Linked DNA regions of Homo sapiens. Changing the gene in region 1 together with any one later gene gives a genetic interaction. Each region holds a gene or a part of one and is shown in the gene's direction. Other genes may lie near its edges. The genes, in order: VPS4A and NSMCE1.

What was found.
Region 2: changes in VPS4A (region 1) and NSMCE1 together harm fitness more than expected from each alone (negative genetic interaction), as found in Homo sapiens cells (one large-scale study listed by BioGRID).

What each region holds. Positions count from the first base shown.
Region 1 is NC_000016.10:69,324,203-69,327,559, forward strand, and holds the end of VPS4A (vacuolar protein sorting-associated protein 4A), read left to right. Parts: intron 1-5; coding exon 6-107; 3' UTR 108-2,737; downstream 2,738-3,357. UniProt on the Homo sapiens protein: Involved in late steps of the endosomal multivesicular bodies (MVB) pathway. Recognizes membrane-associated ESCRT-III assemblies and catalyzes their disassembly, possibly in combination with membrane fission.
Region 2 is NC_000016.10:27,230,736-27,234,547, reverse strand, and holds part of NSMCE1 (non-structural maintenance of chromosomes element 1 homolog), read left to right. Parts: intron 1-282; coding exon 283-360; intron 361-1,400; coding exon 1,401-1,547; intron 1,548-3,812. UniProt on the Homo sapiens protein: RING-type zinc finger-containing E3 ubiquitin ligase that assembles with melanoma antigen protein (MAGE) to catalyze the direct transfer of ubiquitin from E2 ubiquitin-conjugating enzyme to a specific substrate.

The sequences.
Region 1 (3,357 bases):
CACAGTCGGACATGCTGCGGTCTCTGGCCACCACCCGGCCCACGGTGAATGCAGACGACCTCCTGAAAGTGAAGAAATTCTCAGAGGACTTTGGGCAAGAGAGTTAAAAGCTGCTTCACTTGGGCAATGGTGAAGGTGGGAGGTTGATTGGGGCAAATCCAGGCACTCCCCATGTCAACAGCCAGACAGGGCTCCAGGGCTTGTCCCAGTCAATACAGAGTTCCCTCTGCTGTCTGGCCGTCTGCCAGGGAGCCAGAAGGAAGGGCCTTGCAGCCACAGAGACACTCCACTGCCCTGGGGCACACAGTGGACACTGCTCTTCCTACTTCCTCCTCTCCTGGATGCTCATCAGCTCCTTCTGCCTCCCCCCCTTTTTTTTCCATCTTTTGTTCCCCTAAATTAATGCTGCTTGGATTTTCATCTTATTTATAAAGATAAAATCACCTGGAAGTGTCAAGGAGTGGGGCGGGGTGGCGGGGGAGAAGCAGCCGTGCTGCCAGGTCACCCAGACCTCCAGACAGCCGGCTAGCCCCACTGCCCGTTCCTTTTACGCCCAAGTTTTGCTCCTTGAGAGCAGATTGGCTGATGCCCCTGCAACCCCAGCCCAAGCTCTGCCTCAAAGACCGAGTGACATAAGCCATTCCCACCCTCCTAGGTTCACATCCAGGGCTGTGTCTTCCTTGGGGGAGGAGATGGTGTCGTTTAGATCAGGGTAAGGCAGTCAGGCGGGTGTTCACCACTGCCTTTTCTTCCTCTGAGCGTGAGAACACTGAACCCAGCCACTGCCCCTGGGTCCCTGTCCTGGAAATGGTCTAATAAATCCTTTTCCCTTCTTGAGCTACCCAAGTGATCTCATCTTTCCTTGACTCTTAACTGAGACTCTGAAGGGCCACCCTTGCTTCCAATTAAAAGACCCTCTGGTTTTCTGTCTCCTCTCTTTTCTAAAGCAGAGCAGGAAACAGAACACTGCAGTTCTTAGGCCTGTTCTCCAGTCAGGTGTGCAAGGCCTCCTCCCCTTAAGGCCTCAGAAGTTTGGCTGGGGATGTTTGTGGGATCCAGACAGTTCTTGCCGTTGTTCGGCCTACAGATCAGAGACTGCAAAGTGGGAGCCCTGCGTACCAGACCCGTCCTGCAGCTGTGTTTGTTTGGTTTGGTCTGCCGCTAACATTTAAAAGTCGAGAGTTGCTGGGCGCGGTGGCTCACGCCTGTAATCCCAGCACTTTGGGCCGCTAACATTTAAAAGTCGAGAGTTGCTGGGCGCGGTGGCTCACGCCTGTAATCCCAGCACTTTGGGAGGCCGACGCGGGCGGATCACAAGGTCAGGAAATCGAGAACATCCTGGCTAACACAGTGAAACCCCGTCTCACTAAAAATAAAAAAATTAGCCGGGCGTGGTGGTGGGCGCCTGCAGTCCCAGCTACTTGGGAGGCTGAGGCAGGAGAATGGCGTGAACCCGGGGGACGGAGCTTGCAGTGAGCCGAGATCGCGCCACTGCACTCCAGCCTGGGCGACAGAGCAAGACTCTGTCTCAAAAAAAAAAAAAAAGTCGAGAGTTGACATAAAAATTCAGAATTCTGACTTCTAGAAGATTAAATTAGGTAATGTTGGGCCTGCGTCCTCATGGGGCAGCCTGTCAGCGGCCACTAAGTAGAGGCTGCTCTGTACAGAAGGGGTCCCCCATCCCCACTCATCTGTGTTGCCTGCCCAGATAGCCCCATGGCCATTTCAGTTTGCGACCCCCAACAGACCAAGGACCCAGAGCTGGCAGCCCTGGACCCACGTCCGGCAGGCAGTGAAGCTGCAGAGGCTGTCCCACGTTTACCCCATGCATATAAACAGACCAAAGTCAAAGCACATTCACACAGAAAGACCTGGCCTAGTAAATGAAGCTTATAGCCTGCAAAGGGCTTTGTTCCAACCTTCCCTCTCCAAAACCCAGTACTGCTCCTCTACCTTTCAAACCTGGTTGGGCCAGAACTGATTACATGGCCAACTCTTGGCTCACACTGGGCTTGCACTGGGCCATTTCTTTGCTCTGGTTCAGAGCCTCTGCAGAAGTGAGCTAACTTTGGATCAGTAGCTCCAACACTTGGCTCCAGTGCTGGCAGGTTACCCCTCAACCATAGCAGCTGGGATCTTTGTGGCTTGGGGGTGCTTGTGTAAGTTCTTGGTTATGTGCCCTCAGCCACCAGGATATGAACCGTGTCTGCAGAGCTTCACTTTAGTGAGCTTACAAGTTTTTAAATTTTTACTTCTAGTTACATTTACTTGAATCAGAACGTTGTTTCCTCATTCCTACTGCTTAAACACCTTGACAAGTCCTAGGGGTTAACAAAGGTTAGCATGGCTATGGTCCATCCCTGTGCTCTAGTTAGAGCGTGAAGACACCTGACTTTCCAGTTGTCTCTCTCCATGACCAGCAACAGGAACCACTGACGCTGAACTTTGGACAGTGGCCTCAGACTCTGGCTGCCAGCACACAACCTGCCATCATCGATGTTAAACATGCTGACATGTGCAGAGGAGTTTCCTCCCTGAAATGCTCTGAAATTCACTTCTCTGCCTGGGGATTCTGTTATAAACCTTCTGCCTACATTGGCTTTCACTGTGGAAGTTGATTTCTAAAACTCTGATGAGCTCACAACGTTGACATGTATATGCGTTTTTTGTGAGTGCTTCCTGCTCAAAGTGGGAGAGATTTTACTGGAAATGCAATAAAGTTTGCATTTTATTGCTACCGATGCCCACCACAAAAGCGTTAACCTCAGAAAGCTATAAGAAGCATCAAAAGATTGCCATAGCCCCCTGTAAGAGCTTCTGAACATTGTCCAAATGAAAGGAGGCTCAGCTGAATTCTAATTTTCCTAAAGACCCATGTTTTTAGCATCTATGAGCTTTCTACAAATCTCCCCATTGGCTGCATCTCTGACCTTGCACCAGTATCTGGTTGGGATTCCCTTTTTTTTTTTTTTTTTTTTTTTTTGAGACAGAGCCTTGGTCTGTCGCCCAGGCTGGAGTACAGTGGCGAGATCTCAGCCCACTGCAACCTCTGCCTCCCAGGTTTGAGCGATTCTCCCGCCTCAGCCTCCCAAGTAGCTGTGATTACAGGCGCCTACCAGCACACCCAGCTAATTTTCATATTTTTAGTAGAAACAGTGTTTCGCCATGTTGGCCAGGCTGGTCTTGAACTCCTGACCTCAGGTGATCTGCCTGCCTTGACCTCCCAAAGTGCTGGGATTACAGGCATGAGCCACCAAGCCTGGCCGGGATTCCTTTTCAAAGTCTGGCTGCACCTAGAGCCAGTTTGCTTCTGCTTGGCCTCATGGGGCCTCAGAGAAAGCCACAAAGGAGGATGGG
Region 2 (3,812 bases), about 42 Mb from region 1:
CCATTAACATGCAGACAAATCTCCCAAATTTATCTGAGTTTGGAAAATACTGCACACCCTTTGGAGTTCTGAAACTTCTGAGGGCCCAGCATGTTGGCTGAGCTAAAGAATAAAGTCTGTAATATACGCCTGGTTACAGATCCATCCCTGCGGCCCGCAGTGCCTGGATACAGGAGCTCAGTGACTGGCCAGAGATGGAGGAGGGGAGGGAGGGAGAGCCAGCGACACGTTAACCAACACGCAAAGAGCACAGCCTGACTGTCGTGCTGACTTATTTCTTAGGTGAATCTTGCTACAACTTCAATTTCCAAAATGGCTACGGATTTTGCAGAGAATGAACTGGATTTGTTTAGAAAGGCTGTAAGTAGAGTAATCCCCATTGCCCATTGGGTGGGCTTCTTATGGGAAAGTTCTGTCTCCGTCATTAGCAGTGGCAACTGCAGTGTTCAAGGATCACTGGGGGGACATGGGCCACCATTGCTGTCTGAGAAAAGGCTTTGCAGGGAGATGTCACTGTCTACCCATCTGGAACTCACAGCTGCCAGGGGGTCCCCATGGCTGCCTGAGAAGGAAGTGCTGGGCCAGGTGTGAGCCCCAACTGGATGGGCAAGAGCAGGGCTTCACTGGTAGTAACAGGCGTTCCTGCCTGGCTGCTCCAAGTGCCATCTGGGAAAGGCAGCAGCAGCAGCATCGCCTGGGAGCTTGTTAGAAAGGCCCGGTCCCAGTCCCCACTCTAGACTGCTGAGTCCGAATCTGCATTTTTGCCAGGTGCCCACTGAATCCTTTGCACGTGCACATTTGACAGGTACTGTTCTACCAGGCTTCAGAGCTATTTGCTCAGCCTTCTGCTCAAACACATGGCTAAGAGTGGTTCTCAGGCCTAGATGCAATGATAATAACTGCAGAGGTGAAAAATAATTCAGACATTTCAGCCCCACTCACGATCTGTTGAATCCAAATCTCTGAGAACCAGGCGGTGGAATCATTCCTTTTAGATCTTCTCCTGGGGATTATTAGCCACCAAGGTTGAGGAGCAGGTGCTGAGCTGAGCACACACCTGCGTGTGCAGGAACCTGTCTTCCCCAGCGGTTCCTGCCTGCCGTGTCTCTCTCTCACTGCCTCCGAGGCCAGCCGTGAGGCAAGGCGACCCTCTTTGATTTGGGGACATTAAGATGATTTATTTGGGAGGATGTTATAGAAGTGACCTCTGAGTCAAAAGAACTGAGCACAGTCCTGGCTCTTGATGCACATTAAATTGTTTTCCCGGAATACCATGCCAGTGTACAGTTCTGCCTGTGATCTGAGTGGTTTTACTGTGCCTCTGCCAGACTTGGTATTACCATTTAAAAGTTATTTTTGCCATTTTAATAGATGAGCATGATACCTGCTCTTTCTTCCAGCTGGAACTGATTATTGACTCAGAAACCGGCTTTGCGTCTTCCACAAACATATTGAACCTGGTTGATCAACTTAAAGGCAAGAAGATGAGGAAGAAGGAAGCGGAGCAGGTGCTGCAGAAGTTTGTTCAAAACAAGTGGCTGATTGAGGTACTGTCTCATGGTTTTTCCAGCCTGGTTCACTTTTTCAAGTGAATAACAGTTTTTTCTCCAAAATCGTACTTGTAGCCAACTGATGTCTGAGGAGCCCGGCCTTCTCGGATCCCTTATCTGCTTTCATGCATTCCAGCAGTGACCCCGTGGGGAGGACTTGGGCCTCACTCCTCCTGCCTCCCACTCCCCGTTCACCCAGATGATGTGTTCAGGATGCCACAGCCAGAATGGCAGAGCCAGGAGCCGCGCCCAGGGACTTGGGCCCCAGGATCAAGGCTCTAGCCCACAGACTGCAAGGCAGGGCAGTTCCGTGGCTGAGAGTGTGGCTCTAACATCTAACCCGGGTCTGAACCCTGAGCCAGGTGACCTCATGTTCCTTGTAAGAGGGGAGTCGTTGTTTCCCCTTCGGGGCTGGGTGTGTCAGGAGCGGGAATGGGACCTCACAGTAATGTGCTCGGTGCTAGGCTGGCTGGCTCGCGGGGGAGGCGGCAGAGGAATTGGTGACATTACCACTGTTGTTTTTGTCAGCAGTGAGTTCCTCAGGGCCAGTGCTTAGAAGAGGCATAGACCTGCTTCAGGAAAGGAGCTGTGACATCTGGGACAGGCCCCACTGCAGCTCCAGTTTCTAGATGTTGCCCCCACCCCCACGTCTAGTCCTGCTGAATGGAGCAGAACAAATGTTTCAGTTCTTTTTCCACAAAAGGCACCCCTGTTTTCAACAGCTCAGTGTTTGCCGAGTTGACCACAGCTGTGCCTCCCAGGTGCTTGTGCCCATGTGTGTTGAGGACGCACTCACGCCGGGTCCCCGCTTCCTCACTTGGTGGTCGGACTCGTGGCCAGAGGCTGCTGCTTGTGGCTGCAGCGATTCTCCGCTTCCTTTTCAGGAAGGCTCGCGTCTGGGTTGGGGAAGTCTGTGTTCTGAGTTACTGATTTCTATTTAGGGTGGGCCTGTCCCAGGAACCTGACCCGAATTCAGTTCCTGGGGTACCTGATGGGAAGACAGGGTGGAGAGGTCATGGGGTGAGGGCAGGGCTGGGAGCTCCTGGTGAGTGCAGGATCTGCTGGGCGCGTTCCCGTATGTCATGTCTTGGAGGCTGTCTGCTGCCCTGCAGTGGCTCCATAGCTTAGTTTTTAGCTGACAGCTCAGGGGTCTGGATGACGTCGGACACCCTGAGAGTGGCAGGGCCGAGTTCAGGCCCCGGTTTGGGGACTGCAGCTCCCATCAATGGCTTTGTCACAGTTGTTCTTGCCCTCCAGGCTGTATTTGGCACTAGGGAATGTTCTAGGGCTACTCAGGTTATAACTGACCATTCTCGCTTGTGGTGCAGCCCCTCTTCAGGCCAATTTTTTTTTTTTTTTTAAGATGGAGTTTTGCTCTTGTTGCCCAGGCTGGAGTGCAATGGTGCAATCTTGGCTCACCGCAACCTCAACCTCCCGGATTCAAGCGATTCTCCTGCCTCAGCCTCCCAAGTAGCTGGAATCACAAGCATGCGCCATCACACCCGGCTAATTTTTCTATTTTTAGTAGAGACGGGGTTCCTCCATGTTGACCAGGCTGGTCTCGAACTCCTGACCTCAGGTGATCCGCCTGCCTCAGCCTCCCAAAGTGCTGGGATGACAGGCGTGAGCCAGCGTGCCCGGCCACAGGCCAAGTTTTTTAAGGGTAGGGGTTATGACCTCTTCATGGCTGGTCCCCATTGCAGAATGTAGTGCCTGGCACCTCAACTGCTCAATAAATGCTTGCTGAATGGATGACTGGACAGGTGGATGAGGTTGCAGAGGAACAGCATTTAAAACTTACAAAAAATGTTACAGGAAATATCTGCTCATTACAGGAGGATTAGAACATGTTGAGATGCATAAAGAAACCCACTGAAGTCACCTGTTATCCCAGACCCTAGAGCCGAGTGCCCCAACATCCCAGTACACAACACTTTGCACCCTGCTTTGCACCCAAGAGCACCATGCCTAGCACATGCTGCCACCATTGTGCATGGCTTGCAGGGCGTGCCCCCAGCTTTATGGTTTGACTTGCCCTTTGTCTGCCCTTGGTGTCTGGAGAGGGCGGTGGTGGATAGGAGAGGCCCCGCCCTGGAGTCTGTGGCGGTGAGCTGTGGCTGCAGGCGCTTGTACTCTGTGCCTTTCTCAGTTCGGTGGCAGTGCTGGCACCACCTTCTGCAGGGCGCCTCTGAGCTCGAGGGAGGGTGGACAGAGGATCCGGGAGCTGCCACCTGCAGGAGCGCTGCAGAAGTAGCAGGGGGC